4 linked regions of the Homo sapiens genome follow. The protein of the gene in region 3 purifies or fractionates together with the protein of the main gene of each other region. This does not show direct contact. Each region holds a gene or a part of one and is shown on either strand. Other genes may lie near its edges.

The links.
Region 1: the proteins of CYLD (region 3) and RIPK1 purify together in Homo sapiens (affinity purification with western blotting; 5 studies listed by BioGRID). This does not show direct contact.
Region 2: the proteins of CYLD (region 3) and YWHAE purify together in Homo sapiens (affinity purification with mass spectrometry; 3 studies listed by BioGRID and IntAct, with this or other methods). This does not show direct contact.
Region 4: the proteins of CYLD (region 3) and ELAVL1 purify together in Homo sapiens (affinity purification with mass spectrometry, with the first as the bait; 2 studies listed by BioGRID). This does not show direct contact.

What each region holds. Positions count from the first base shown.
Region 1 is NC_000006.12:3,106,479-3,113,503, reverse strand, and holds part of RIPK1 (receptor-interacting serine/threonine-protein kinase 1), read right to left. Parts: exon of another isoform or gene 6,713-7,025; intron 5,703-6,712; exon of another isoform or gene 5,607-5,702; intron 4,203-5,606; exon of another isoform or gene 4,108-4,202; intron 2,702-4,107; coding exon 2,549-2,701; intron 452-2,548; coding exon 165-451; 3' UTR 1-164. UniProt on the Homo sapiens protein: Serine-threonine kinase which is a key regulator of TNF-mediated apoptosis, necroptosis and inflammatory pathways.
Region 2 is NC_000017.11:1,390,204-1,397,228, reverse strand, and holds part of YWHAE (14-3-3 protein epsilon), read left to right. Parts: intron 1-7,025. UniProt on the Homo sapiens protein: Adapter protein implicated in the regulation of a large spectrum of both general and specialized signaling pathways. Binds to a large number of partners, usually by recognition of a phosphoserine or phosphothreonine motif.
Region 3 is NC_000016.10:50,780,077-50,787,101, reverse strand, and holds part of CYLD (ubiquitin carboxyl-terminal hydrolase CYLD), read right to left. Parts: intron 5,857-7,025; coding exon 5,691-5,856; intron 4,778-5,690; coding exon 4,636-4,777; intron 3,244-4,635; exon of another isoform or gene 2,913-3,243; intron 2,774-2,912; coding exon 2,651-2,773; intron 264-2,650; coding exon of another isoform or gene 248-263; coding exon 156-247; intron 1-155. UniProt on the Homo sapiens protein: Deubiquitinase that specifically cleaves 'Lys-63'- and linear 'Met-1'-linked polyubiquitin chains and is involved in NF-kappa-B activation and TNF-alpha-induced necroptosis.
Region 4 is NC_000019.10:8,002,627-8,010,027, forward strand, and holds the start of ELAVL1 (ELAV-like protein 1), read right to left. Parts: upstream 3,016-7,401; 5' UTR 2,869-3,015; intron 1-2,868. UniProt on the Homo sapiens protein: RNA-binding protein that binds to the 3'-UTR region of mRNAs and increases their stability.

The sequences.
Region 1 (7,025 bases), on a different chromosome or scaffold from region 3:
ATTTCTTTCCCCATTCTCCAGCTATGAAGTACAGGAAACAAAATTTCTGCAGACACAGAACCCCTATCAGTGAGGACAGAATTCTGAATGCTCTGAGGCAGCCAACTTTCTGGGGTTATCCACTAAGTGAGGCGTCCACTTCAGCTGCCGTAGCCCATCCAGGGTTAGTTCTGGCTGACGTAAATCAAGCTGCTCAGAAGGTCGATCCTGGAACACTGGTGGAGCGCCTGGGCCAGCTTCCCCACCGTGGCTCCCTTTATGCCTTCCCTCATCACCCACTTTTGGAGCATCTGGTAAACCTTTTCTTTCAGTCCATCTCGCTCATAGTCATGGTCAATTTCATCAATCTGAGACTGTGTGAAGCCCAGTTTACGGGCACAGTTTTTCCAGTGCTTTCCCAGATTTTCCCTGATTGGGTCCAGGTGTTTATCCGTCAGACTAGTGGTATTATCTGCCAAATGGGAAAAAGAAGAAGGTATCAAGCTAAAACCCATTCAAACATTCCAGCTTCCTGAATTGCTAAAAAACCCAAGTGAAATGAAGAGTACCAGAAGACAGTGAAAAAGATAACTTCTTAGTTATATAGCTGTTGATGCACTGGCAGACATTTCACATGCCTGCTAGCCCACATGGAGTCTTTATGTGAATTAGAATAGGGCATTCCCGGCCTGGCGTGGTGGCTCATGCCTATAATCCCAACACTTTGGGAGGCCAAGGCAGGAGGATCACTTGAACCCGGGAGTTCTAGACCAGTCCTGGGCAACACAGCAAGAACCTGTCTCTACCAAAAAAAAAATTTTTTTTAATTAGCTGGGTATGGTGGCACATGCCTGTAGTCCCAGTTACTGAGGAGGCTGAGACAGGAGGATCACTTGAACTCAGGAGTTCGAGGCTGCAGTGAGCCATGACTGTGCCCCTGTACTTCAGCCTGGGCCACAGAGCAGGATGTTGTCTCAAAAACAAAACAAAAAAGAATAAGGCATTCCTTCCTCCTAGTAGACACATCCCTGAGCCACAGCTGATGGCTCTGTGAACAAAACCCCTGTGTGGCTACGAGGTTGGGTGTTCTAGTCAATCTTAGCCAGTGATCCTGTTGGTATTAGACCTTCCTGGGTGTAAAGGGAAAACCACCATTTTTGTTCCTTTTAGACATTCTCCGCTTACATCTGGCCAGAGTTAAAGCCGCTCAACTCCTGACCACCACCCCGGCCCAACAGTTCACTTTCCTCTTACTTAATCAAGGAATTGTCCAGCAGGCGTGAACCCATTCAGTTACAAAGCCTTCCTTGTCTTTCAAGCGACGAGGTAACTATACTCTTCAAGGTCTGTTTTTGGACCCTAACCCCTCCTTTACTCCACCCCACTGCCGACCGACATTGCCTCTTCTCCAATAGCCATAACCTCTCTCCTTCTACTGGTTCCTTCCCTTCGCCCTTCATAAAAATAATAAAAGGAAACAAATGAAAATGTACAACAACCACAACAAAAAAAATTCCTTAATCCCCACACTACCTCATTAAACAGAATATAAGGAAGAAAACATTTCATTCTTCCTTCCCACCTCTCTTCTTTCCTCAGCCCTCTGTGATGTGGCTCTCTCTCTATCCATATCTTATAGATTGTCAGCAGTCCAAGAACTTCCCAAGATATTTTCCAAATTTTGTCAATATTTCTGTAGGGGGTAGATCCTGGGTTTCATTAGATTCTCACAGGTGCCCCTGACCATTCGCAAGTTCTGTTCTAGGTATTTTAAAAGCTGTCCTTCAAATGGGTTAGACCAGGGGTTGGCCAACTATGGCCTGTGGGCCAAATCTGACTCCTGCCAGCATTTGTAAATCCACTTTTATTGGAACACAGCCGTGCTCATTCATGTACATATTGTCTGTGGTTGCTTTTGCACTACAATAAGAGAGGTGAGTAGTTCCAAGAGACCTCAAAGCCAGCAGGGCCTAACATTTACTATTGGTTCCTTTACAGAAAAAAAAAAAAAAAGCGCCAATCCCATGGTTAATTAGAAAGCTGAGTTCTTAATCAAGTCGTTTTGGCCTCATGACTTTTTCCAGACTGTACTTTGGGATTAGCATTATGGGCTGCACCATAGAACCCTATAAGAGATAGCCCTCTTGATTTTATTACAGAAGTGCTGTGGAGGGCACAGTCTTCTATCTTTTACAGGATCTCCTTCGATGAGGGCCTGACACAGCTATTTCTTCTGGGTCTGAGAAGTAATACTGATGATGATGATGATGAAAGTTTAACACTTTTTATAGAACTTACTATGTGCCAGGCAGTGTTCTAAGCTTTTTATACATATCAACTCATTTAATTTTCACAACAAATCCATAAATTAAATACTGTGATTATCTCCATATTAAAAATAAATAAATGACAAAGGAATTATATGGAAATTACAAAGATATTTTGCAGAAGTAACATAAGAAAACTTTCAAGAAGAATTATCAGAGAAATTTTAAGATTCCACTATGTCCTTCTCACAAGTAAGAAAGTTCAAGGTTGCTAGGCGTTGAGTCCTTCCAGGGTATCTTACCAAAGATAGCTTGGTACTTAGCAGCTGGCTCTTCTTTGAAGTTCGTATTTGTGCTGTCTAGTAGTGATGAACTCGTCCCACCAATCTCCATATAATTGTAGGCTCCAATCTGAATGCCAGTACTATTGTATATGGTATATTTTATAGATTCATCTGCATAGAGAGAAACACACAGGTAAGTAATTCTAGATCAAAAGCAAGAGAAAAAAATACAGCATGGCAAAAAAGCAGGGCTTTATGCCAAACATTAAGTTAATTATCCTATGCCACCCTTTAAACTTTTCTTCTTTCAAATCTGGCTAAACCACCTCATACCCATTAGGATGCCTATGATTAAAAAAAAAAAAAGAAATAACACATATTGACAAAGATGTGGAAAAAATGAAGCCCTTGTGCACTGCTGGTGGGAATGTGAAATGGTGCAGCTGCTCCTATAAAGAGTATAGTGGGCCAGGTGCGGTGGCTCACACCTGTAATCCCAGCACTTTGGGAGGCTGATGCAGGTGATCACCTGAGGTCAGGAGTTCAAGACCAGCCTGGCCAACATGGTGAAACCCCTTCTCTACTAAAAATACAAAAATTAGCCAGGCGTGGTGGTGGGTGCCTGTAATCCCAGCTACTCAGGAGGCTGAGGCAGGAGAATCACTTGAACCCAGGAGGCGGAGCTTGCAGAGTGAGCCAAGATCGTGCCACTGCACTCCAGCCTGGTGATAGAGTGAGAGTCTGTCTCAAAAAAAAAAAAAAAAAAAAATCGTGATTCTTCAAAAAAATTAAAGATAGAATTACCATATGATCCAGCAATTCCGTTTCTGAGTATATACCCAAAAGAACTAAAACAGGGTGTTGAAGAAATATTTCTACCCACGTGTTCACTGCAGCATTATTCACAATAGCTAAAAGGTGGAAGTAAGCCAGGCACCCATGAGCAGATGAGTGGATAACCCAACTGTGGTCTAGCTACACAATGGAATAGTCAGCCTTGAAAAGGAAGGGAATCACATCACATGCTACAACATGCATGAAGCTTGAGGACATTTCCTAAGTGAATGAAGCCAGCCACAAAGAAAAATGCTGCATGGTTCCACTCACATGAGGTACCTAGACTGGTCAGAGTCACAGAAACAGAGAGTAGAATGGTGGTTGTCCGGGGCTGGGAGGGGAGCTGGGGAGTTGGTGTTTAATGGATACAGAGTTTTAGTTTTGCAAGATTAAAACAGTTATATAGATAGATGGTGGTGATGGTTGCATAACACTGTGAATGTTAGATAATGCCACTGTAAAAATGGTTGAAATGGTAAATTTTATGTTTTTGAATTTTACCATAAAAAAATGTGGCTAACACCAAGTCAGAAAACAGAAGTGGATGAACAACACAGCAAAGCTCAGCCACACTTCCCAGCGGGATCCCACGACTCTGAACAGCATCTGTGAAGGGTCCTCCTCCTTTACCTGATAAACTCAAACCTCTCAGGTTCAGTATTCAGAAGCTAGCCACAGCTCTGCCCTACCCTCTTGTCTCTGATCTTCCTTTCACTGTTTCCTCCCTGTCTCCACTCCAGAGACTCCAGTCCCACCAGATTTCCCACCGATCTGCTGACATGATGCTCCTGCCTCTGCCTGGACTGCTGACCTCCCCACGTGCTTCTCCCTGCTTGTGAGTTTCTGACATAGGCCCAGCACAAATTCCACCTCCTTCCATGAGCCTGCACTGTAATCCTAGACTCAGCACTCTGCCCTGCGCCGCTCTGTATCTGAGCTGGGTCTGTTTGACTTCTCCACTAGAATGTGAGTCCCAAGGGCAGCGACCACACCCACTTGTTTTTGTACTCCTTACACTCGCTAGCCTGGGCCTTGGTACGGGGCATGGGCTCAATGACATTCATGCTGAGCTGAATTTGTCAAGTGTTGGTACTGTCCCTAAAGAGCACTTGGCATATCTTTGTAGGAGAGAGAAGGTGGTTGAGAAGACAGTTCTGAGGAGGGAGGGAAATGAGTATCAGCTCAAGGTACCTCCGTCAGCACACCTGGCCCTAAGGTAGGCCACCCTCTGGACCAGGCACTGTGCTCATTTGTTACATTTTCTCTGAGGAAGCCAAGGAAACTAGGGACCCTCTCTACTGAAAGGTGTAAGAAATATAGGATGTGCACACACACGCCATCTGTGTGCAATTCAGGGTGTTCGTGAAGCTGCTGAAACTGGGGTCCTTGGAATCCTAGCAAGGAACCCCTGTGACAGTCTCTGAGGTGCCTTCCAGTGCTCAAGGCTGTCTAGGTGTTCTTTGCTGACAATGATAATAACAGTGCTAATAACAGCAGCTACCGTTTACTGAGCACTTACTCTGCGCATCGCCAGGCACAGTGGTAAGCTGCCTTACCCTGTTTAATCCTCCTGGCCCACCACCTCCAGCTTACACTGACACCGTGTTCGTCACTCACAGTCTGCGCTCACCGCGGGCTTACATGGAGGTTTATTTACCCTGCACCTCTCTACTTGGAAATCTGTGTTCTTGAATCAGTGCTTTCTGCCCAAATCTGACCACTGGAAAAACCATGAAAGTTACGAAGTGGAGAAACGAATGCAATACTAGAAACATACTAGAGCTGATAATATATAAATTTTCAGTTGTAACATTTTCATTTATAATTGAGGAGAATGAACTCTGGAGAGGCAAATGACTTTCCCAAAGTCACCCATATAGTGACCGGCACAAGCAGGACTAGACCTGGGTCTCCTGACTCTTAGCCCAGTGAGCTTTCCTTTTCTAACCTCACTTCAAGCAGCACAGTGAATAAAAAGCAGTGGGTCTAAGAGCTCTTTCACTGAAAGGAAGACATTTATTTTCCTTTTGTACTTACTGCATACACACCCTTCTTCTATGGTATGGCAAATTAGAAAACTCATATTTTGGTATAGAGTTAGGACTTTTTGATGATAAAAGCAAGCAGAAGACTTATTTAAATTTGCAAGGAGAAACTCAGCGTGTTCATTTACTAGCTTAGTACCTGGCAGGATCATCTTTGGGAGCAGAAACACAGAAAATTCTATTATCTATTGTAGATCCAAGCGCCCCTTTCCCACTGAAAGCATCTCAGAACCCTGAAGAAGCTGCATCCCTGTACATCTGTCACTGGCAGAACCAGGAACCAGAACGAGGTGAAAACACAAAGAGATTTCTGGCACTAAACGGGTGTATTTGGGTTGCTCATGTAGAAAAAAGATAAAAAATGACACATTAAATATTGGTTTAGGGTCTGCCTTCTGTCCACTAGGATTTAAACTGTGTGAGGGAAGGGACTCAGGCTGTTTGTTCAGTTATAGCTCCAGTGCCTGGAGAACTGCACGTCACAAAGTGGGAAGAGTTTTGGAATTTTTTTTTTTTTTTTTTTTTTTTTGCGACAGTCTCGCTCTGTCACCCAGGCTGGAGTGCAGTGGTGCAATCTCGGCTTACTGCAACCTCTGCCTCCCGGGTTCAAGTGATTCTCCTGCCTCACCCTCCCAAGTAGCTGGGATTACAGGCGCACGCCACTATGCCCAGCTTTTTTTTTTTTTTTTTTGTATTTTTAGTAGAGACGGGGTTTCACCGTGTTAGCCAGGATGGTCTCAATCTCCTGACCTCGTGATCTTCCCACCTCGGCCTCCCAAAGTGCTGGAATTACAGGCGTGAGCCACTGTGCCCAGCCAGTGGAATTTTTTTTTTTTTTTCGAGACACAATCTCACTCTGTTGCCCAGGCTGGAGTGCAGTGGCATGATCTCAGCTCACTGCAACGTCTGTCTCCAGGGTTCAAGTGATTCTCCTGCCTCAGCCTCCCTAGTAGCTGGGGCTAAAGGCATGCGCCACCACGCCTGGCTAATTTTTGTATTATTTAGTAGAGACAGGGTTTTACCATGTTAGCCAGGCTGGTCTCGAACTCCTGGCCTCAAGTGATCCACTCACCTCAGCCTCCCAAAGTGCTGAGATTACAGGCATAAGCCACCACACCTGGCCAACCATGGCCCCAGCTGAAATTTTTATTGACTTAATCATGAATGAATAAAATGATATGGCAATACTAATAAAAAATTTTATCCCCAACATGAAGGAAACAAAAGGACATTCTGCTCATAGGATTATACATGACTTGGATACTGCTTAATGTCTAATCCAATATTTTGCATTCTACAGATCTTATCATAAAACCTATGGAAGAAATCGAGGATGTTTGCATAGGACGTTTTTGGAGAATTTGGCCTTTTGAAAGAAAATGTAACTAAGCTCTGTGGTTCTGAAAGCTTCCTCTACCTGAGATGATTTCAAGATCTCCAGGACACCTGTGGGTATCATTGGTAGATGCTGTTCAGGTAGTTAAGGTGATGTTGGTGAGTATTATTTGATAAAAATGCTGGATATTACATTAACTCACTTCCATTCTAGACTGCCAGTAACTACTATCACCTACCTTTTACTTCACCTGATAGAGATATGGGAGTTAAAAGAA
Region 2 (7,025 bases), on a different chromosome or scaffold from region 3:
ATGAAATAGTACAAGAAAGTGGGGAAGAAAGGCCGGGCGGGGTGGCTCACGCCTGTAATCCCAGCACCTTGGGAGGTCGAGGCGGGTGGATCACCTGAGGTCGGGAGTTCAAGACCAGCCTGGCCAACATGGTGAAACCCTGTCTCTACAAAAATAAAAAAATTATCCGGGCATAGCTACTGAGGAGGTTGAGGTGGAAGAATCACTTGAACCCGGGAGGTGAAGGTTGTAGTGAACCAGGATTATGGCATTACACTACAGCCTGGGCAACAGAGCGAGACTCTTGTCTCCAAAAAAAAAAAAAAGAGGCCAGGTGCGGTGGCTCATGCCTGTAATCCCAGTACTTTGGGAGGCCAAGGCGGGTGGATCACCTGAAGTCAGAAGTTCGAGACCAGCCTGACCAACATGGAGAAACCCCGTCTGTAGTAAAAATACAAAATTAGCCGGGGGTGGTGGGTGCCTGTAATCCCAGCTACTTGGGAGGCGGAGGCAGGAGAATCACTTGAACCCGGGAGGCCGAGGTTGCGGTGAGCCGAGATTGCGCCATTGCACTCCATCCTGGGCAACAGCAACAATAAAAAACGGGGAATATAGAGGGGAAAAGTTTACCCGTTTTTGGGGAGCAGAGGGGTAACATAAACTACATTTGGGCTTGTGGGGCTGTTGTTGGTTTTGTCCTTTCCTAGTCTCTTCCCTATCAAGATTGGCTTCATGGAAGGTAGGATGAAGTTTTGATGGTCATGTTGGATTCCCTAGGAATGCATCTGTTGAGTCATTTACTTGAGAGCTGTCTTTTTTTTCTTTTGAGACGGAGTCTCGCTCTGTCTCCCAGGCTTTATTGAAGTGGCACAATCTCGGCCCACTGCAACCTCCGCCTCCAGGGTTCAAGCGATTCTCCTGCCTCACCCTCCCGAGTAGCTGGGACTACAGGCATGTGCCACCATGCCATGCTAATTTTGTATTTCTTTTTTAGTAGAGACACGGTTTCTCCATGTTGGTCAGGCTGGTCTCGAACTCCCGACCTCAGGTGATCCGCCCACCTCAGTCTCCCAAAGTGCTGACATTAAGGACCTGAGCCACCGCGCCTGGTCAAGAGCTGTCTTTTTTTTGAGACGGAGTCTTGCTCTTGTCGCCCAGGCTGTAGTGCAATAGCGCGATCTCGGCTCACTGCAACCTCCATCCCCTGGGTTCAAGCGATTCTCCTGCCTCAGCCTCCAAGAGTAGCTGGGATTACAGGCATCCGCCACTATGCCAGGCTAATTTTGTATTTTTAGTAGAGATGGGGTTTCGCCATGTTGGCCAGGCTGATCTCGAACTCCTGACCTCAGGTGATCCGCCCGCCTCGGCCTCCCAGAGTGCTGGGGTTACAGGCGTGAGCCACTGAGCCCGCTGAGAGCTGTCCTTTTAAAACACCAGATCCTCATCTCTAGCTAGCTTATTCTGCTAGTTAGTGAAGAACAGGGAAGGGAGCATGTGTGGAATGAACTTTTTACTACGGTCTTGTTAGGAAAAAAATAGGTAGTAGTAAATTAACGTTGTTAATAAGTTTAGAAGTATTTAGATTAACTACCAGTTCTTTGACTGTAGGCCAGTAATTTTCCATTGCCGTTTCAGTTAATGGACTAACTTTCTGGAGTAAAGTTTATTTTTCTCCTTCTTAAATGCATAGACAGAACTGAGTAACGTAGTGTTAAAAATCCCTTCTACGACTGGGCTCTGTCCCCCAGGCTGGAGTGCAATGGCGTGGTCTTGGCTCACTGCAACCTCCGCCTCCCAGGTTCAAGCGGTTCTCCTGGCTCAGCCTCCCAAGTAGCTGGGACTACAGGCGCGTGCCACCACACTCGGCTAATTTTTTGTATTTTTAGTAGAGACGAGGTTTCACCATGTTGGCCAGGATGGTCTTTATCTCCTGATCTCAGGTGATCTGCCCACCTCAGCCTCCCAAACTGCTGGGATTACAGGTGTGAGCCACCGCACCCAGCCAATTTTTGTGTTTTTGGTAGAGACAGGGTTTTACCATGTTTGCCAGGCTGGTCTTGAACTCCTGACCTCAGGTGATCTGCCTGCCTCGGCCTCCCAAAGTGTTGGAATTACAGGCGTGAGCCACCACACCCGGCCTGATTGTTTTTTTTTTTCATGGATGACTGTAAGGGTGACTGATACTGCAGGCATATTTTTTCTTTATATTTCAAGAACACTGTGTACACAAACAGTAATGACAAGCATGGAGTAAAGGCTGCAGTTTTATTTTTATTTATTTTTTTGAGACAGTCTTGCTCTGTCACCTAGGGTGGAGTGTAGTGGTAGGATCTCGGCTCACTGCAGCCTCTGCCCCCTGGGTTCAAGCGATTCTCCTGCCTCTGCTTCCCGAGTAGCTGGGACTACAGGCGCCCGCCATCGCACCTGGCTAATTTTTGTATTTTTAGTAGAGATGGGGTTTCACCATGTTTGCCAGGCTGATCTCTGACTCCTGACCTCAGGTGATCCTCCCGCCTCAGCCTCCCAAAGGGCTAGCATTACAGGTATGAGCCACTGTACCTGGCCTAAATTTTTAATTTTTTAATGGGCACATATTAGGTGTATGTATTTATGGGAAGGCTAAATTAAAAAAAAATTTTTTTTTGAAACAGGGTCTTGCTTTGTGACCCAGGCTGAAGTGCAGTGTCGCCATTATAGCTTACTGCAGGCTCGACCTCCTGAGTTCCAGTGACCCTCCTGCCTCAGCTTCCCTAGTAGCTGGGACTGTTGCACCGGCCTAATTTTTGTGTTTTTTTTTTTTTTTTTTTTTTTTTGTGGATTTGAGGTCTCTATGTTGCCCAGGCTGGTCTTGAATTCCTGGACTCCCACCTTGGCCTCCCAAAGTGCTGGGATTACAGGTGTGAGTCACTGCTTCTGGCCTAAACTTTACATATGTGTATATGACATTATGCAGTACCTCAGTTCACAGCCCACGTTGACAAAAGTTTTTAATTTATGTAACAAGATTGAAGCAGGTAGAGCGTTACTCCCATTTTCTGGTTCAAGAAAGTGAGTTTGAGAGAGAGATTTTTTTATGATCATGTGGCTAATCAGTTATTAAATGGTAAAGCCAGAACTTAGTGTCTGCTGACCTTTAGATCGGTACACTTACTCTCAGCCACTCAAAAGACCTCTGTGAAGTAAGGTGGTGCCTTTCAGGGGAGTAGGGGGTGAGTAGCGTATGCTTGATGCTTGTTCTTTAACAATTCTAATAGCATCTACTTCACATCTTGATGTTTGTGATGACTGATATCCATGGTGAATTGTAGACAAAATCTTTTCACTTTCCTAAAGAAACCTGATGGTTTTTTTCAGAGATAAAATCCCATCTCAAGGCACAGCGAAATTAAAATGAGGTGAAGTTTAGGTACTCTCAGAATGTTTATTCGCATACAGATTCTTAAAAAACATGATTTATTGTAGGCAGATGTCACCTCTTTAAGCAAAAGAAAAAAACAACCAAAAAAAGAAAAGCCCCAGCCGGGTTCCGCGGCTCAAACACCTGCAATCCCAGCACTGTGGGAGGCCGAGGTGGGCGGATCACCTGAGGTCAGGAGTTTGAGACCATCCTGACCAACATGGTGAAAACCAGTCTCTACTAAAAATACAAAAATTAGCTGGCCTGTGATGGCTTGTGCCTTTAGTCCCAGCTACTGAGGAGGCTGAGGTGGGAAATCGCTTGACCCTGGGAGGTGGAGATTGCAGTGAGCCCACATCGCACCATTGCACTCCAGTCTGGGCCACAGAGGGAGAGCCTGTCTCAAGAAAAGAAAAGCCCCGTAGTTTATCATAATGTCTGTACTGGGATATGGCTGATGCTATGCATTTCTGTAAAGTAGCTTTAAAATATTTTCTCCTCTCACTTTTATCTTTTTCCTTTTTTTTTTTTTGAGACAGGGTCTCACTTGGTCACCCAGGCTGTAGTGCAGTGGTGCGATCTTGGCTCACTGCAGCCTCTACCTTCCAGTCTCAGGTGATCCCCCCACCTCAGCCTCTTAAGTAGCTGTTTTTTTTGTTTGTTTGTATGTTTTTAAATTTTATTTATTTATTTATTTATTTATTTATTTATTTATTTTTTGGAGAGATGGAGTCTTGCTCTGTCACCCAGGCTGGAGTGCTGGAGTACAGTGGCGCGATCCACCACTCCCAGCTAATTTCTTTTGTGTTTTAGTAGAGATGGGGTTTCACCATGTTGCCCAGGCTGGTCTTGGAATTCCTGGACTCAAGCAATCTGTCAGACTTGGCCTCCCAAAGTGCTGGGATTATAGGCGTGAGCCACCACCCCCGGCCACCTTTGTCTTAGTGAATGCTATTAAGTTGTTAGGTTAGTGATGTAGTCATACAACTTTTTTTTTTTTTTGAGATGGATTTTCCCTCTTGTCATTCAGGCTGGAGTGCAGTGGCGTGATCTTGGCTCACTGCAGCCTCCGCCTCCTGGGCTCAAGTGATTCTCCTGCCTCAGCCTCCCGAGTAGCTGAGACTACAGACTTGGGCCATCATGCTTGGCTAATTTTTGTATTTTTAGTAGAGACAGAGTTTCACCATATTAGCCAGGCTGGTCTTCAACTCCTGACCTCAGGTAGTCCGCCTGCCTCAGCCTCCCAAAATGCTGGGATTATAGGTGTGAGCCACCGCACCCGGCCAGATATAGACATACAACTTCTAGGAGGGACAAAGGTTGGCATATGATTCACCAGTGTTGTTCCGGGTGGTTGGCTAGATAGCTGTCTAATGGAATCCATTAAGGAGTAGGAAAGAGCAGCAAGAAAAATGGCTATTTTCACTATTTTTGAAATGGTCAGTTAACAGTTTGAGATAGATACATATACTTTTTTGAGACAAGGTCTTGCTTTGTTGGCCAGGCTTGGATTGCATTGATGCAGTAACGATTCACTGCATCCTCAACCTCCCAGGCCCAAATGATCATCCCATCTCAGCCTCCCACTTAGCTGGGCCCACAGCTGTGCACCACAATACCTGGATAATTTAAAAGAACTTTTTTTTCTTTTTCTTTTTCTTTTTTCCCGAGACAAGATCTCAGTATATTACTCAGGCTGGGATGCAGTGTCACATTTATGGCTCACTGCAGCTTTGACCCCCTGGGCACCTCAGCATGCCAAGTAGCTGGGGCTACAGAAGTATACCACCACTTCTGGCTAATTTTTGTAGAGACAGGATTTTACCATGTTGCCCAGGTCTTGAACTCGAGCTCAAGATTCACCTGCCTCGGCCTCCCAAAGTTTTGCGATTACAGGCGTGAGCCACCATGGCTGGCAAAAAAATTTTTTTGGTAGAGGCCTGGTCCCAGCGGATTGCCCAGGCTGATGTTGAACTCCTGAGCTCATGTGATCTTCCCACCAGGTAGCTGGTACCGCCATGACCAGCTAATTAAAACTTTTTTTTTGTGGAGACGGGATCCCACTGTGTTGTCCAGGTAACTCCTGGGTTCAAGCGATCCTCCCACTGTGGCCTCCCCAAAGTGCAGGGATTATAGGCATGAACCACTGCGCCCGGCCAGCTTGATATATTTAGGTATTGATATATCCAAATTGACGAATTGGTTGCCAACAGAACCTCATGGTTCTCTGACTAAATGTTAATGCTAGTCATGGCCCTAAGAACAATTTCAGATGTTCATTTAAATTTATTAAATTGTAGCAAATAATAATGAAAGTCACCATAATTTAACATCCACATGAGTATATCTTGAAAAGACAGACTAATTCATCAGCTACAACAGCAGGCATAAACTGGGATTGTCCTGGGCAACAAACTTGCCTTGTGGTCACCCTACTTAATGGCCATTTGTTACTAGATTTTGTCATTTAGACTCATACAACAGTTTCCTAAACGTTGTCCAGCTTTTTATCACAGAGATAGCTTAGATCTACGTCTCTAGGAGGTTGAATTTTTTTTTTTCAAATGAAGTTAGCCTTTGGCAGAATATAAGTCAAAGGAAAAGTGAAAATTTCCTCCTCCTAGCTCCCTCCCCCACAAATGGGAACGTGCTAGTTAAGGATGTGGTAGTTGCTGAAAATAGAGCTTGCTGGCATTCCAAATCCTCTGATGGTGTCAACACCTAGTGTGTTGGTTTTCTTATGGCTACCTTGAGCCAGTTCTGTGTTTAAAAATATAATAGACCTAGGTGTTGGTAGCAGTGTCCTAAGCTCAGAGCTTTCCCTACATACATTTTATTTTTTTATTTTTACAAGTGTCTTTCATACCAAATACCCACATAAAAATTTAAAGGCTCACCCATATCTTGTTACAACTGTTATGTTTAGAATGCCAAACTGTGTAGTTCAGACCATATGACCATGATCCTGGCTTATCTCTTCTGAAATTTTTATCTTGAATTTATTGCCCTTCCAACAATCTACCATAGTAGCTGGACGGATCTGTTGTTGGTGGGCTTGATTTGTGATCAGATCAGGATTTTATCGAGCTAAAGCAATATGAAATGTGTTTAACTCTTCATTCATATCTAAAGTTTGAAGGAGATGCATTACTGTAAGAGTTATGACAGTATTTCATCATTTGGCAGATGTGGTAAATCTGCCATCACAGAATGCACAGGAATCACTGGGTTCCTTATCTTTCAAATGGGGATTAGTGATGTCTCTCTTGCCTACTAATTTGCAGGGTGGTTATGAAATTTTGGGCTTTTGTAAACTGTAAAGTGTAATACTTGTCGGTACTATTTGTTGTGAAACATTCTTATCTAATGTGAAAGGTCAGATAATTGTTTTTGTTACTGCTGTGCTAGGATCATATTAGATGATAACCTACCTTTTTGAGTTATTCTTAGCAAGTGTAGTCTTCTGGGCTTAGTCCTTATGTAAGATATGCACAAAGAAATATTCTCAAAATCCTTAATCTTACATCTGTAAATTTGCATATCCAAAGTAAAGGTCGTCCAGATTATTCCCAAATAATAATTTTGTCATGTTGAGCTGGTATATAGTTGTTTTGATATTAATTTTAGATTAATAAGAGACTTTCTCCTT
Region 3 (7,025 bases):
TTTACAAAAAGAGGAGCTAACCATATATCACATAAAAAGAAATTTCTAATTTAAAAGAAAACCCCCCAACTACACAGACACACATTTCAGCTAATACTTTGACATGTGAATATGCTCTTCAGTTATTTTTAACGCATATAAGTTAAGATGGTCACCTTTTTCTTCAGAGGTAAATCCTGATGCAGCCTCCACCTTTTCAAGTATTTTCCTCAGTTTCATAATTTTTGTGGCACACACATATCCATATCTAAGTTAGTAAAAAACTATTAATTGATATTGGCATGTATTAAATTATATAACACATCTTAATCACATATTTCTTTTTTTCTTTTTTTTTTTTGAGATAGAGTCTCACTCTATCACTCAGGCTGGAGTGTGCAGTGGCCCGATCTCAGCTCACTGCAACCTCCGCCTTCCAGGCTCAAGAGATTCTCATGCCTCAGCCACCAAAGTAGCTGGAATTACAGGCGTGCACCACCACATCCAGCTAATTTTTGTATTTTTAGTAGAAACAGGGTTTCACCATGTTGGCCAGGCTGCTCTTGAACTCCTGGCCTCAAGTGATCCGCCCACCTCGGCCTCCCAAAGTGCTGGGATTACAGGTGTGCGCCACCACACCTGGCCAACACATTTCTTATACAACTCCAGTATGTCATAAATCAATAGGTTAGACAATTATTTTTGAAGAAAACAATGATAAGCTTCTTCTTGAAGTTTGCAAAATTAAAGATCTAGAACCAGAATTATCCTAGACACTATTATATGCTCTACAAGTAACTGTCATACACTAAGATAAAAAATTTTTAGGTTTGCTGTGACTGATTTTTTAAATAATATTTGCTTGGGAAATTAAAGCATTTACTTTATAAAGCAGAATATACAATTTTGAGAGAGAATATCCTTTTAATACTGAAGTGTGAAACAGCCACCAAGGGAAATGGGAAAGGGAATTTATAAGAAACTGAAAATCTAAAATCTGCAATCAAACCAATTGGCATAATGATGACATTTTCTCTCTTCTTTGTCTGAATGCAAGACACATTCAATCAGTTTAATATCACTTTAAATTTGTAATTCTAAAAATGGCTTCAGAGGAGAACTTGGCGGCTACCATAAGTTTACTAAGGACAAGTCAGAACTAGCTAATTTTATATCCACTTTTTATACTATTCATTCACTCATTAGTTTCCTGCAACCAATACAGACTGAGAATCTACCACTTACATAGTAACGTAACCTGTCAGCCACTGGGAATACAAAATGAGTAAGGTTAAAAAGACAGGGTCTCTGAAGAAAAGCAGAGATTTCAGCACCAAATAAAACCAGTCAGCTATATACAGATATGAATGCTACAGACACAGGGAATCCTGATCACAACAGGGCATCTGACCAGTTTCTTACCGTGGACAGGGTAAGAAAGTGTGATTAACTATGATTCTTAACTGGCTGAACAATAGGATCCAAAGAATGTTTATTCTTCCTCTCTTCTAGGAAGGAGGTGTTAACATGCCTTAGAGTTTCGGGTTTGACCTGTCTTGTTCCAGTATCAATTACTTGGGGGAAAAAAATCGTATGTTTAAAAATTTGCATAAGACAAAATAGTTGATGTGAAAATCAAGATTCACAATTATCTTAAAGAGTAAGATCATTAGAGAAATCATTACAGAATTTAAAGAAAGCAAAAGATATAAGTGAGGAAATTTATTCTCTTATAATTTACTTTCCTAGTCATGTGATATAGCAGATAATTTGGAATCCTCATTGTATTTGAGTATTCTGCTTTTTTGGTTCAAATTTGATATCAAACTATTTTTTACTTTAATTGATAAATAAGAACAGTATATAAAAGGATTCAAATTTATCTTAATATGGACTTTAAATAAATCACTTTCTCTCTATATTCCTGAATGAACAAATTTGTTTTATGATCTATGGTCCTAATTCTTCATAGTTTAAATTTTATAATGTGACATTATCACATATCACTACTACCACTTATTCAAAGTCTTTACTAGATATCTCCTGTCACTTGTGCTTGTACCATTACAAATTGCTTCCTGTGGCCATAAAAAGACATATTTATAATTCCTAAAGTAGGAAATGGAAAAAGAATCACCTTTTTAAGGCAGGTGGAAAGAGGCCAAATATATTCCTTTAACCAAAAAATATGGTACTAAAATACATCTCATCTGTTGCTAGTCCAAAGTATTAAACACTAGCTATTCTATAAAGAATTTCCCTTTCTCCTTTTCTTTCAGATTTAAGAAGCTAGACTACACCAATTTAACTAATAAGCATGATTACTTGTAGCAGAAGTGTTGGAATAAACTATTTCAAAAGATAAGAATCCTAAGTATTATGTATTAGCTTTCCTAAACATACTGCAATTGCTAAATTATAGTTTACTCTAGCAAAATAGGTTAAATCATTTCATGGAATATGCTATGTTCTACACCTTGGCCACATTTAAGAAATTAAATAAGCAAAAAAGTACAAGGACCAAAGGTTTAAAAACGTAATATTTTACCATAAGAACTAATTTTCACCCATCTCTTATTACATGAAGACAAGGTATAAATTAATTACTATACCAGAAAACAGCAAATAGAACACCATGTAAAGGCAAAATAGCAATTTGTTTTCTACTTACATTCTCAGAGGATTAACAATTTCTGTCCTCAGTAGCTCTTGGGTTTCACTATAATATTCTACATCGTTCTTTTCTTTGGGTCTAAGTAACACAGTGTCCAGAACAGAACTAAAAGCAAATAAGCTGCAAAAGAAAAAGGATAATTTTCTTCATGCTGTAAACATATTTTTCAAGAAACAGATTTTTAACAGAATTAGAAGAGGAAAATAAGTAAAGTCTGGAGAACAAATAACATAACAATTTGTGTTTTTCATTAACACAGGTACCAGGACCCCTGTGAAGATACCCATGGTTCAATCATCAGGACCTACAGATCCTTCCATGTTAAGGACAACACCAATAATACTGAGAAAGCAAACGGCAGATTGGCAGTGTTAAAGGATAACAACGTGCCAACAGAATATTAAGAAAGAAAACTTCTTTGCAAAAGTTGATAGAGAGACTACAAATATCAGTCAAATTACAAACAGACAACAGAGGACAGCATTTGGAAACGACTTCCCGAGGCAAGCACTATTCAGTGCCCCACTTCCCTCTCCCCATGCCCCTTTGCAAAGATCTATTACATTAATAAATTTCTTTAAATGCTAAAATCACTTATGAGTGACTAACAGGCCAGGTGCGGTGGCTCATGCCTGCAATCCCAGAACTTTGGGAGGCCGAGACGGGTGAATCACCTGAGGTCAGGAGTTTGAGACCAGCCTGACCAATATGGTGAAACCCCGTCTCTACTAAAAATACAAAAATTAGCCAGGCATGATGGAGTGCACCTGAAGTCCCAGCTACTTGGGAGGCTGAGATAGGAGAATCGCTTGAACCCGGGAGGTGGAGGTTCCAGTGAGCCGAGATCACGTCACTGCATTCCAGCCTGGGCGACACAGCGAGACTCCTTCTCAAAAAAATAAACGAGTGACAGCAGTAACTTGCTGTTATCAAAGAAAAAGAAAATTTAGCTAATATAGATTTTTATCAGGAAATCTAAAGAATATTATATCAATGCTACAAGGTTTGTTTTTGTCAAAGTATTCTGCAAATAAAATGGCCGCCACTTTATTCTTCTTCCTACTTTAAAAATGTTAACATCCCATATTAACTTCCTAATTCTTATCATATGGCTACAGAACTGGCAGGCTACTCTCAATTTAGCCCAGTCTACAATCCTCAGAGCCTAAAGATTCTTGGTTCAATTTCCAGAGCTTAAAGATCCTTGCAATGTTAAGGCTGGGCGTGGTGGCTCATGCCCGTAATCCCAAGCACTTTGGGAGGCCAAGGCGGGTAGATCATTTGAGGTGAGACGTTCGAGACCAGCCTGGCCAACGTGGTGAAACCCCCGTCTCTACTGAAAATACAAAAAAGAAAGTTAGCCAGAAGTGGTGGTTCACACCTGTAATCCCAGCTACTCAGGAGGCTGAGTCAAGAGAATCGCTTGAACCTGGGAGGCAGAGGTTGCAATGAGCCCAGATTGTGCCGCTGCATTCCAGCCTGGGGGACAGAGTGAGACTCTGTCTCAAAAAAAAAAAAAAAAAAAAAAAAAATCTTAAGTTGTTCCACTTTGGAAAAAATTGCATATATGAGGGCAGCAGTGCTGCTACTGAAAATCGTTTTTTTAAAGACAGTAGTTTTATGACTGCCTTTACCTACTAAAAGAAATACAGCACATAACAGCCAATGGCTTTACTGCAAGTTATGTTGTTTGAGACATGCACAAAGATTTCCCAGATACCCTCTGTATATCTATTCCATTGTACCAATATCATTCACCTTTCTGGACACAGAAACATGAGACAACATTCAAAAGCTTAAAAGGAGTATGTCATAAAAAGCAAATCTCCCTTTCAATCCTGACCCACAGTCATCCAGTTTCTCTACTCAGAGGCAGATGGCAGTTTCTTTCACACACACTCACACGCACACACACACACACACCGGTATGTGTCCCTGCCTCATGGCACTATCTATACCTATTGCATTCTTTTTAAACTTACCAGAATAAGGTTGAGTCTAAGTAACAAGAATTGTAATGACCCTGGATGCCTTTCTTCTTCCCAATCATTATCTCCAAGCCTTCTTTTTCCATTTTTGGTGGAGTATTTTCTTCTACTACTTCACTTAAGTAGCCTCCAAATGCTGAAAAGATTTTTTTAAAAAAAGTAAATGAAAAGAATTCTTTTAAACTATTACAATATGTATTCCCATAAATATTTTTTCATTTTAAAATGTTTTTGTATTTTGATGCAAAATTTTTTCTTTAAGTGGAAAGTAGGCTTTGGTTAACTGCTATTTGACTTGGCTTATAAAAATTGCTATTGTTCATTTTCAACTTCATTTCCTCCAAGATTTAAAAACACACTTTAGAGTATTATGTGTAAAAAGCATCTGTCAAGTAAAATATGTTTCCCAAATATTTCACTATTTATCTGAAGTTGCTTCACTTTCAAGTTTGAAAAGAAAATGAAAATTCCAAAGTACTATTTCAACATAATAAGAGTGTTTTTCATAAAGATGGCTTTCCTGTTTGCACCTGCTGAAGCCCCAAGATGCTTTTCCACTATTATGTAGAAGTGGAAAGGAACAGCACCAGGAAACTGCCACCAATTACACATGATGAGGAGAGCTGTCCTCCAGCAATCAGTTGAAATCTACTTCTTACACTAAAATGCTGATTTCTTTGTAAGATACACTCACTGCTGTAAACAAGACACTGTGAGGGAAGTCAGTAAAAAAAAAAAAGAAGGTTACATTTCAATTTCTACCACTAGTATTGCTGAAAACTAAATGTCTGTCATCAACAGGAAGAGAAAAACAAACCACACTATTATTCACTTTATAAGTCCCAAACGCACGTCCTAATACTTTTTTAAGATGTCCCCTCTTAAAACAACTTTCTTATACACCATGCAACATTTTTACTGATTTAAAGCTTAATGAGCGTTGGCAAGAAATATATTAAAACACTGTCACCATCACCTAATATAACATGATATGAGATTAGAATTAGAGTCATTCCAGGTTGTTAAGTAAACAAAAAGCATCCAAATACCTAAAGAGTTACAGCGCTCAATCTGATTGGAAACCGGCTGCAATGATGCAAACCTAGAGTCAGGCCTGCAGCTCTTCAGTTTCACAAACAGCGCCTTCTTCAGGGCACAGGTGAAATACCGAGTGCCTCTGAAGGTTCCATCCGTACAGCCTGCACACTCATCTTCCTGAAAAAGAAATGCTTCAATATGCATTATACCGTGCCTTACAGAGATAGTATACAAAGAACTAAGGTTTCTAAGACCTGTTTCTAGTATACCCTTTCTCACCACTCCCTCTTCGCACCTGTACTGAGAACCTCATCAAGAAAAAGGAGTTGAGTAATCAGTGCTTCAGCCCACAGCTACTGATTTAAGAAGTGACTTCCTTAATCCAGCATGAAGTCCTTCTTGTATTTCCTTTCAGAATATATGCTTCAACCTCCCCTGGTTAAACGGGCTTTCCCGCACCATTTCTACAAGCATTAAAACAGGCAGGGAAGGAGAAGGCTATTTATTTTAACCCTCATTCTTGCCTCCCCACCATGCCCCATAAGATAGTATTCACTAGCATGGAAACAAACAAGAAAAAAAAAAAAAGAAATATATTTAAATTGGCCAGGTGTGGTGGCTCATGCCCATAATCCTAGCACTTTAGGAGGCCAAGGCGGGCAGATCACTTGAGTCCAGGAGTTTGAGACCAGCCTGGGCAACATGGCAAAACCCTGTCTCTACTAAAAATACAAAAAATTACCAAGCATGATGGTACATGTCTGTAATTCCAGCTACTCAGGTGACTGAGGCAGGAGAATAGCTTGAGCCCAGGAGGTCGAGGCTGCAGTGAGCCCTGACCGTGCTACTGCACTCCAGTCTGGGTGACAGAGTGAGACCCCATCTCTAAATAAATCCTAAACATACTCAACTTCTCCTTTCCTGATTACAAAATATCAAATGATATGTTCTCCTGATCTCTAAAGGGAAAACCTTTCCCTCTAGCAAAGGTCTCAAAAGATCTCTAAAAATGGTGATTAACTTTAAAGCCAGTGATATAATTATTAGAACTGACCAGGGGAAGGGGCTGAAGAAGAAAGAGAAAAGCTGATGGCAAATTTGCTTGATTTACTAAATTCTGTTTAATATAAGGAGCCTAAATCGATTGGCCTAAAAATCAACTTTCATTCCTTGAACATAAATCAACTAACATTAGGACAAGTGGGTCGCAAGCTTCAGGGGCGGCAAAGGGAAGTCAGAAAACATGGTGAGAAAATTATTCTGCAGTGATAGCTTTTCTGACAAATATAACAGTTTGTCAAAAAGCATATAATAGGGCGAAATCTGCACAAAACCTCACAGAGAAA
Region 4 (7,401 bases), on a different chromosome or scaffold from region 3:
AATGGGATGGGAACACTAAGGAGGGAACAGTTGATTCCGGTGCGGGTGGAGGAAGAGTGGCAGTCAGACGAGGCTTCAAACGGCCAGTGAGCTCTGGGCTGAGCCATGGAGCATAAGCAAAGGATCTCCAGGTGGAAGAGATCTGTCTCCAGGTGGAGGCTGCAACAGGCAGGGAGGGTTAGAGTTTGGGGTCTACGTGCAGGGGCGGGGAGGGTTAGGGTGTGAAGGAACTGGCACTCCAAACTAAGGGCTTCTAGCTTTATCTTTTAAGCCACCAGAGAGGTCAAGAAAACGTGTCTTTTTTCTGCACAAAGATTTTAAATCAGAAGGGATACAATTAGATGTGCATTTACAGAACAGAACTCCTGCTGGAGTGTGGAAAGAGGGAAGAGATGGGAAGCGGAGAGTGAGAGAGGCAAGAAATTTTCATAAAGTTTTTTCATAATTCTCTCATTTCTTTTACTTGAAATAGCACCATGGGCTGGGCGCGGTGGCTCACACCTGTAATCCCAGGACTTTAGGAGGCCAAGGCGGGTGGATCACCTGAGGTCAGGAGTTCGAGACCAGCCTGCTCAACAAGGCGAAATCCCACCTCTACTAAAAATGCAAAAAATTAGCTGGACGTGGTGGCGGCTGCCTGTAATCCCAGCTACTTGGGAGGCTGAGGTTGCAGTGAGCTGAGATGGCACAACTGCACTCCAGCCTGGGCAACAAGGGTGAAACTGTCTCAAAAAAAAAAAAAAAAAAAGAAAAAGAAAAAAAAAAAAAAAGAAATAGCACCATGGTCCGGGCGCGGTGGCTCACGCCTGTAATCCCAGCACTTTGGGAGGCCGAGGCGGGCGGATCACAAGGTCAGGAGATCGAGACCATCCTGGCTAACACGGTGAAACCCCGTCTCTACTAAAAGTACAAAAAATTAGTCGGGCGTGGTAGCCGGCGCCTGTAGTCCCAGCTACTCGGGAGGCTGAGGCAGAAGAATGGCGTGAACCCGGGAGGCGGAGCTTGCAGTGAGCCGAGATCGCACCACTGCACTCCAGCCTGGGCGGCAGAGTGAGACTCCGTCTCAAAAAAAAAAAAAAAAAAGAAATAGCACCATGATCTCAGACTCAACACATCCAGACTGAAACTCTGTCTGCTCAAAACCAATGCATCAACATAAACAGTATTATTTCCTTCCACATTTGAGACGTTCGTGTATCTCAACCTCTTTGTGGGCCTCGAAGTTGCAGAATTTGATAATAGATCCCAGCACAGAACTTTGCACACAGAAAATATTCGATGACAACTGGAGTGCCCTGGAGCCTTGTGATTATAGGAGCAGTACAATCGAGTGGTTAAGAGTAAGGGTTTTGAATCAGAGGGCCCGAGTTCAAACCCTGGCGCAGCCACTTTAGTGCATGAGACTGGTCACATCAAGTGACCCATCTAAGCCTCAGTTTCTTCATCTCTAAAATGGAAATTAATGGAAATTATAACATCACCTGCCTCAAGGACTGCAGACAAACGTCCACAAAGTGTCAAGCACATAGTAAATCCTCAATAAATACTGGTGGCTATGTACAACATCATTTATTCAGTGCCTACCAGGCACAGACCACGCACAACGCAACGGGATTTCCACCCTCTTCAATTTGCACCACACTTTTGTCCTTCCCATTTTATAGATAAGAAAACTAAGGCTCAACAGAGTCAAGCTTGTTCGAGGTCTTGGGAGCATCTCCCAGGGCATTAGAACTTTTGGAGGAAGAGCATTTAGTTCAGTAATGGTTCTCACCTGTGCGTGTGAGAGTGGAAGAGACCCCTCCCCCGCAACCCGAGCCATCTGGCAATGTTTGGAGATACTTTTGATCCTCACGACTTGGAGCATGGGGATACTGCTGGCATCTAGTGGGTAGAGGCCAGGAATACGGCTCAACTTCCTACATTGCACAGGGAAGCCCCCACTACCACCACAACCAAAAACTATCTGACCCCAAACATCAGTAGGGCCAACGTCGAGAAACCCTGCTCTAGACAGATCATTCTCCTCATCTTCCCATTTCTGGCCATCCGGATCTTAGATGAACACTTTCTAGCAAGGGGGCTCAGTCCCACCACGGGAAGCCCATGCAGAAGTTGTGCAGAAGTTCTTCTCCACCTGCCCTGCACACAGTAGGGACCAAAACCCATTTTAACAAGCCCCGCAGCCCAGAGCACCGGAAAAGGAAGGAAGGGCATCCATCCCCCATTGTTCAACTGTGTGCAGCTTGTGTTTCCAACAGGCACACACACATATTTTACAAATCCTAACGTCCCACGCCCCACAAACAGCTTTGTTAGAGATGGCGCTCAAAAAAAGATGCAGTTTAGATTTTTTTTTTCCCCCAGGACTCCCGTGTATCTACTGAAGGGTTTGCACACTTCTCAAAGGACCTCGCACCGGCCGCGGTGCTCTGACAACGACCACAAAAGAATCTGTGGGATTTCCCGGGGGAGCAAGCCCGTGGGCCGTGACCTCTGCGCGCTCAAAGCGTTCCCGGCGCTCCCCCGTAGCTGGCCCCACTCTCCCGCCCCCGGAGCCCGGGCTTCCAAGGCGACCGGGGCCCCCGGCCGTGCAGCCCGGCCCCCCGGCGCATGCCCACGCCGTATCCCCCTCGCCCGTCCCTCGAGGCGCCAGAGGAATCCGGCCCCGGGGCCTGTAGCCGGCGCCCACACCGGCCCGCCCCGACCCGCCCGCCGCGGCCCCAGCGCGCGTCCCCTCCCCCGGTCCGGCGCGGCCTGGGCCTCGGCCGGTGCAGGCCCGCGGGCGCCCCGCGGCCAGGCCAGGCGAGCTCAGGCCTGCCGCGGCCTACCCCGTCGGGCGCCGCCGAAGGCCCCCCACCGCCTCACCTGGATGCGGGCGGGCGGGCCCGGGGCTGCTCCGGGGCGGGCGGGAGGCGGCGGCGGCGCGGCGCTAACGGCTCCGCTCGGCCTCGGTAGCGGTGGCGGCGGTGGCGGCGACGGCGACGGCGGCAGCGGCTCCTCCTCAGCGCGCACGACCCGCTCCGGCCCGCGGCCCGGACACGCCCCCCCCGCGCGCGAGCCCATTGGCCGACGTCCGCCACGGCGCGCTGCTCATTGGCCGGCGTAGCTGTCGCGGCGCTCCGGGGCGCGCGGGAGAGGCGGGACTTCCGGTCGGCGCCGCCTGCGAAGTGCTCCGCGGCCGGCGGAGACGCGGGCAGCCAGCGATGGCCGCGGAGGGGGCGAACTGGGTTCCGGCCCTCGGAGGCTGACGGAAGGCGGTGGCTGAGGAGCGGCGCCTCTGGTTGAGCGCTCGCCGTGTGTCCCGCACCTGTCTGTCCTGCCGCCGCCCGGTAAGGTAGGAAAGGTCAGCGCGCCGGGGTTACGGGTACAGAACCTGGGTTCGAATCCCGGCCCCGACGTTTCCGCACTACGTGCCGTTGGGCAGGAGCTGACGTCACCTTGCCGGGCCTCAGTTTCCTTCTCTGGTGCGCTGAGGAGGCGGGGCATGGAACGTGGTCAGCGCTTCATCGGTGCTGGCTCTTTGAGCAAGCCAGTTCCCGAAGGCTCAGCATCTCATTCATTCATTAAAATGTCATTGAGCGCCTACTGTGTGTCAATCACTGTATGGGCAGTGAGCAGAAAAAAAATACCTGGTCTTATTGGGCTAACATTCTAAACCAGCGCTGGCCTAGAATGCCCTAGTAGAAATACATGCAAGCTACATGTTTAATTTTTTTTTATGTAAAGATGGGCTCTGGTTCTGTTGCCCAGGCTGGTCTCGAACTCCTGGACTCAAGCGATTCTCCTGCCTCCGCCTCCCAAAGAGCTGGGATTACAGGCATGCCTGCACTCTGCCTAATTTTTTCTTTTTTTTTTTTATGATCTGAAAATAATAGTCTTTTTATTTTTATTTATTTATTTATTTATTTGAGACGGAGACTCGCTCTGTCGCCAGGCTGGAGTGCAGTGGCGTGATCTCCGCTCACTGCAACCTCCGCTTCCCAGGTTCAAGCGATTCTCCTGCCTCAGCCTCCTAAGTAGTTGGGCCTACAGGCGCTGCGCCACCACAACCAGCTAATTTTTGTATTTTTAGTAGAGACGGGGTTTCACCGTGTTGGCCATGATGATCTGTATCTCTTGACCTCGTGATCTGCCCGCCTCAGCCTCCCAAAGTGCTGGGATTACAGGCTTGAGCCACTGCGCCTGGCCTACAATTTTGTTTTTCTTTTTTTTTTTTTTTTTTTGAGACAGGATCTCACTCTGTCACCCAATTTGGAGTGCGGTGGTATGATCACAGCTAACTGCAGCCTCAACTTCCCCAGCTCAGGCAATCAATCCTCCGGCTTCAGATTCCTGAGTAGCTTAGACTACAGGATGTGCCACTATGCCTGGCTAATGTTTTATTTTTTTGTAGCGATGAGGTCTTGCTGTATTGCCTAGGCTGGTCTCAAACTTCTAGACTTAAGTGATCCTCCTGCTTTGGCCTCCCAAAGTGTTGGGATTACAGGCGGGAGCCACGGTGCCCAGCCTGTTTCTTTTTTTAATCATATTTTCTTAGAAGTTTTTTTTTTTTTTTTTTTTTTTTTTGGAGACAGGGTCTCACTCTGCTGTGCAGGCTGGAATGCAGTGGTGTGATCTCAGCTCACTGCAACCTCTGCCTCCCTATTCAAGTGATTCTCGTGCCTCAGCCTCCCAAGTAGCTGGGATCACAGGCGTGCAACATCACACCCAGCTAATTCTTGTGGTTTTAGTAGAGATGGGGTTTTGCCATGTTGGCCAGGCTGGTCTCAAACTCCTGGCCTCAAGTGATCCACCCACCTCGGCCTCCCAAAGTGCTGGGATTACAGGCATGAGCCACCACCCGGCCTAGGAAAGCTTTTTAGAGATTGGGTCTCACTGTGTTGCCCAGGCTGGAGTGCAGTGGCTGTTCACAGGTGCAATCATCCCACAGGTTTAACTCCTGACCTCAAGCAGTCCTTCTGCCTCAGGCTCCCAAGTAGCTGGGATTATAGGCACGTGCCACCACACCTAGCTCAATTAAATGTTAAATTTAACATTTAATTGTTAAATTTTATAGTAGCCAGCATTCTGGGTCATCACGGTGCAATAGAAGTATAAACAAAGCAGGCCAGGCACAGTAGGTCACGCCTGTAATCCCAGCACTTTGGGAGGCCGAGGCGGGCAGATCACCAGGTCAGTAGTTCGAGACCAGCCTGGCCAACATGTTGAAACCCCAGTCTCTACTAAAAATACAAAAATTAGCTGGACGTGGTGGCAGGAGCCTGTAATCCCAGCTACTCGGGAGGCTGAGGCAGGAGAATCGCTTGAAACTGGAAAGTGGAGGTTGCAGTGAGCCGAGATCCCGCCACTGCACTCCAGCCTAGGTGAAAGAGGGAAATTACATCTCAAAAAAACAGTATAAGCAAGCCACAGATTTGTCAGCGAGGTATGTAATTTAAATTGGTACATTGTTAGCCATGTTTAAAAATAAGTAAAAAGAAACGGGTGATGTTAGTTGTAATGTGTTTTATTTAACTCAGTAGGTTGAATATGTTATTATTTAAACATGTAGTCAATATTTTAAAATACAGGATGTTTTGCATCTGTTATCTTTCCAAAATAGAAGATACTTTGTGTCCTTTTTCTTTCCTGCATGCTTTTTTTTTCTTATTTTTTTGAGACAGAGTCTCACTCTGTTGCCAAGGCTGGAGTGCAGTGGCGGGATCTCGGCTAACTGCAACCTCCCCATCCCGGGTTCAAGCGATTCTCCTGCCTCAGCCTCCCGAGTAGCTGCGATTACAGACATTTGCCACCATGCCCGGGTAATTTTTTGTGTTTTTAGTAGAGACAGAGTTTCACCATGTTGCCCAGGCTGGCCTCGAACTCCTTACCTTAAGTGATCCACCCGCCCTGGCCTCCCATAGTGCTGGGATTACAGGCGTGAGCCACCGCGCCTGGCCCCTGCCTGCTTTTGAAATCTAGTATGTATCTTATACTCCACAGCACAGCACAGCACCGCACATCTCCAGTCGGACTGGCTACATTTCAAGGGCTCAACCATCACGCGTTACCAGTGGCTACTGCATCAGACTGTGCAGTGCTAGATGGGGAGTCAGAAGAGAAACCAAGTGATTTCCATGTCAAGTGGTGAACAGGCTAAGAAGAAAAGTAAATTGGGGAAAGAGCATGGGGAATGTGGGGGTTGCTGTTTGAAAGAGGATGGTTGGGAAGGCTGAAGAGCTGTCATTCGCAGAGGGACCCAAAAGAGGTGAGAGCACTGAACAAATAGTTACATTCTTCATTGTCTGCCGCAGTGCTGTCCAGAAGAGCTTCCCACGATAATGGGCATGTTCCATATCAGCACCGTCCAATTCAGTAGCCCCTGGCTCCATGGGGTTTTCTCTCTTTGTTTTTTTCTGTTTGTTTTTTTTTTTAAGACAGAGTCTCACTCTTTTGCCAAGGCTGGAGTGCAGTGGTGTGATCTTAGCTCACAGCAACCTCTGCCTCCTGGGTTTAAGCGATTCTTCTGCCTCAGCCTCCTGAGTAGCTGGAACTACAGGCATGCACCACCACGCCTGGCTAATGTTTATATATATATTTTTTGCTTTGTTTTGTTTTGTTTTGAGATGGAGTCTTGTTCTGTCGTCCAGGCTGGAGTGCAGTGGTGTGATCTCGGCTCACTGCGAGCTCCATCTCCCTGGTTCACGCCATTCTCCTGCCTCAGCCTCCCGAGTAGCTGGGAATACAGGCGCCCACCACCACACCCGGCTAATTTTTTCATGTATTTTTAGTAGAGACGGGGTTTCACTGTGTTAGCCAAGATGGTCTCTATCTCCTGACCTCGTGATCTGCCTGCCTTGGCCTCCCAAAGTGCTGGGATTACAGGCGTGAGCTGCAGCGTCCGACCTATATTTATATTTTTATTTATTATTATTATTATTATTATTATTATTATTATTATTATTATTATTATTTTGAGATGAAATATTGCACTGTCGCCCAGGCTGGAGTGCAGTGGTTTGATCTCGGCTCACTGCAACCTCCGCCTCCTGGGTTCAAGTGATTCTTGTGCCTCAGCCTCCCAAGTAGCTGGGACCGCCTGCTACCACACCTGGCTAATTTTTTTGTATTTTTAGTGGAAACAGGATTTCATCATGTTGACCAGGTCAGTATTGAACTCCCAACTTCAGGTGATCCACCAACCTCGGCCTCCCAAAGTGCTGGGCTTACAGGCATGAGCTGTTGCACCTGGCCTCCATGTGTGTTTTGTAGGGTTTTTTTTTTTTTTTTGCACTTGGCACATGGTTGGTACCATTAAAGAACTGACTTTCTGGCCAGACAACGGTGGCTCATGCCTGTAATCTCCAGCACTTTGGGAAGCCAAAGTGGGAGGATAACTTGAGGCCAGGAGTTCAAGAC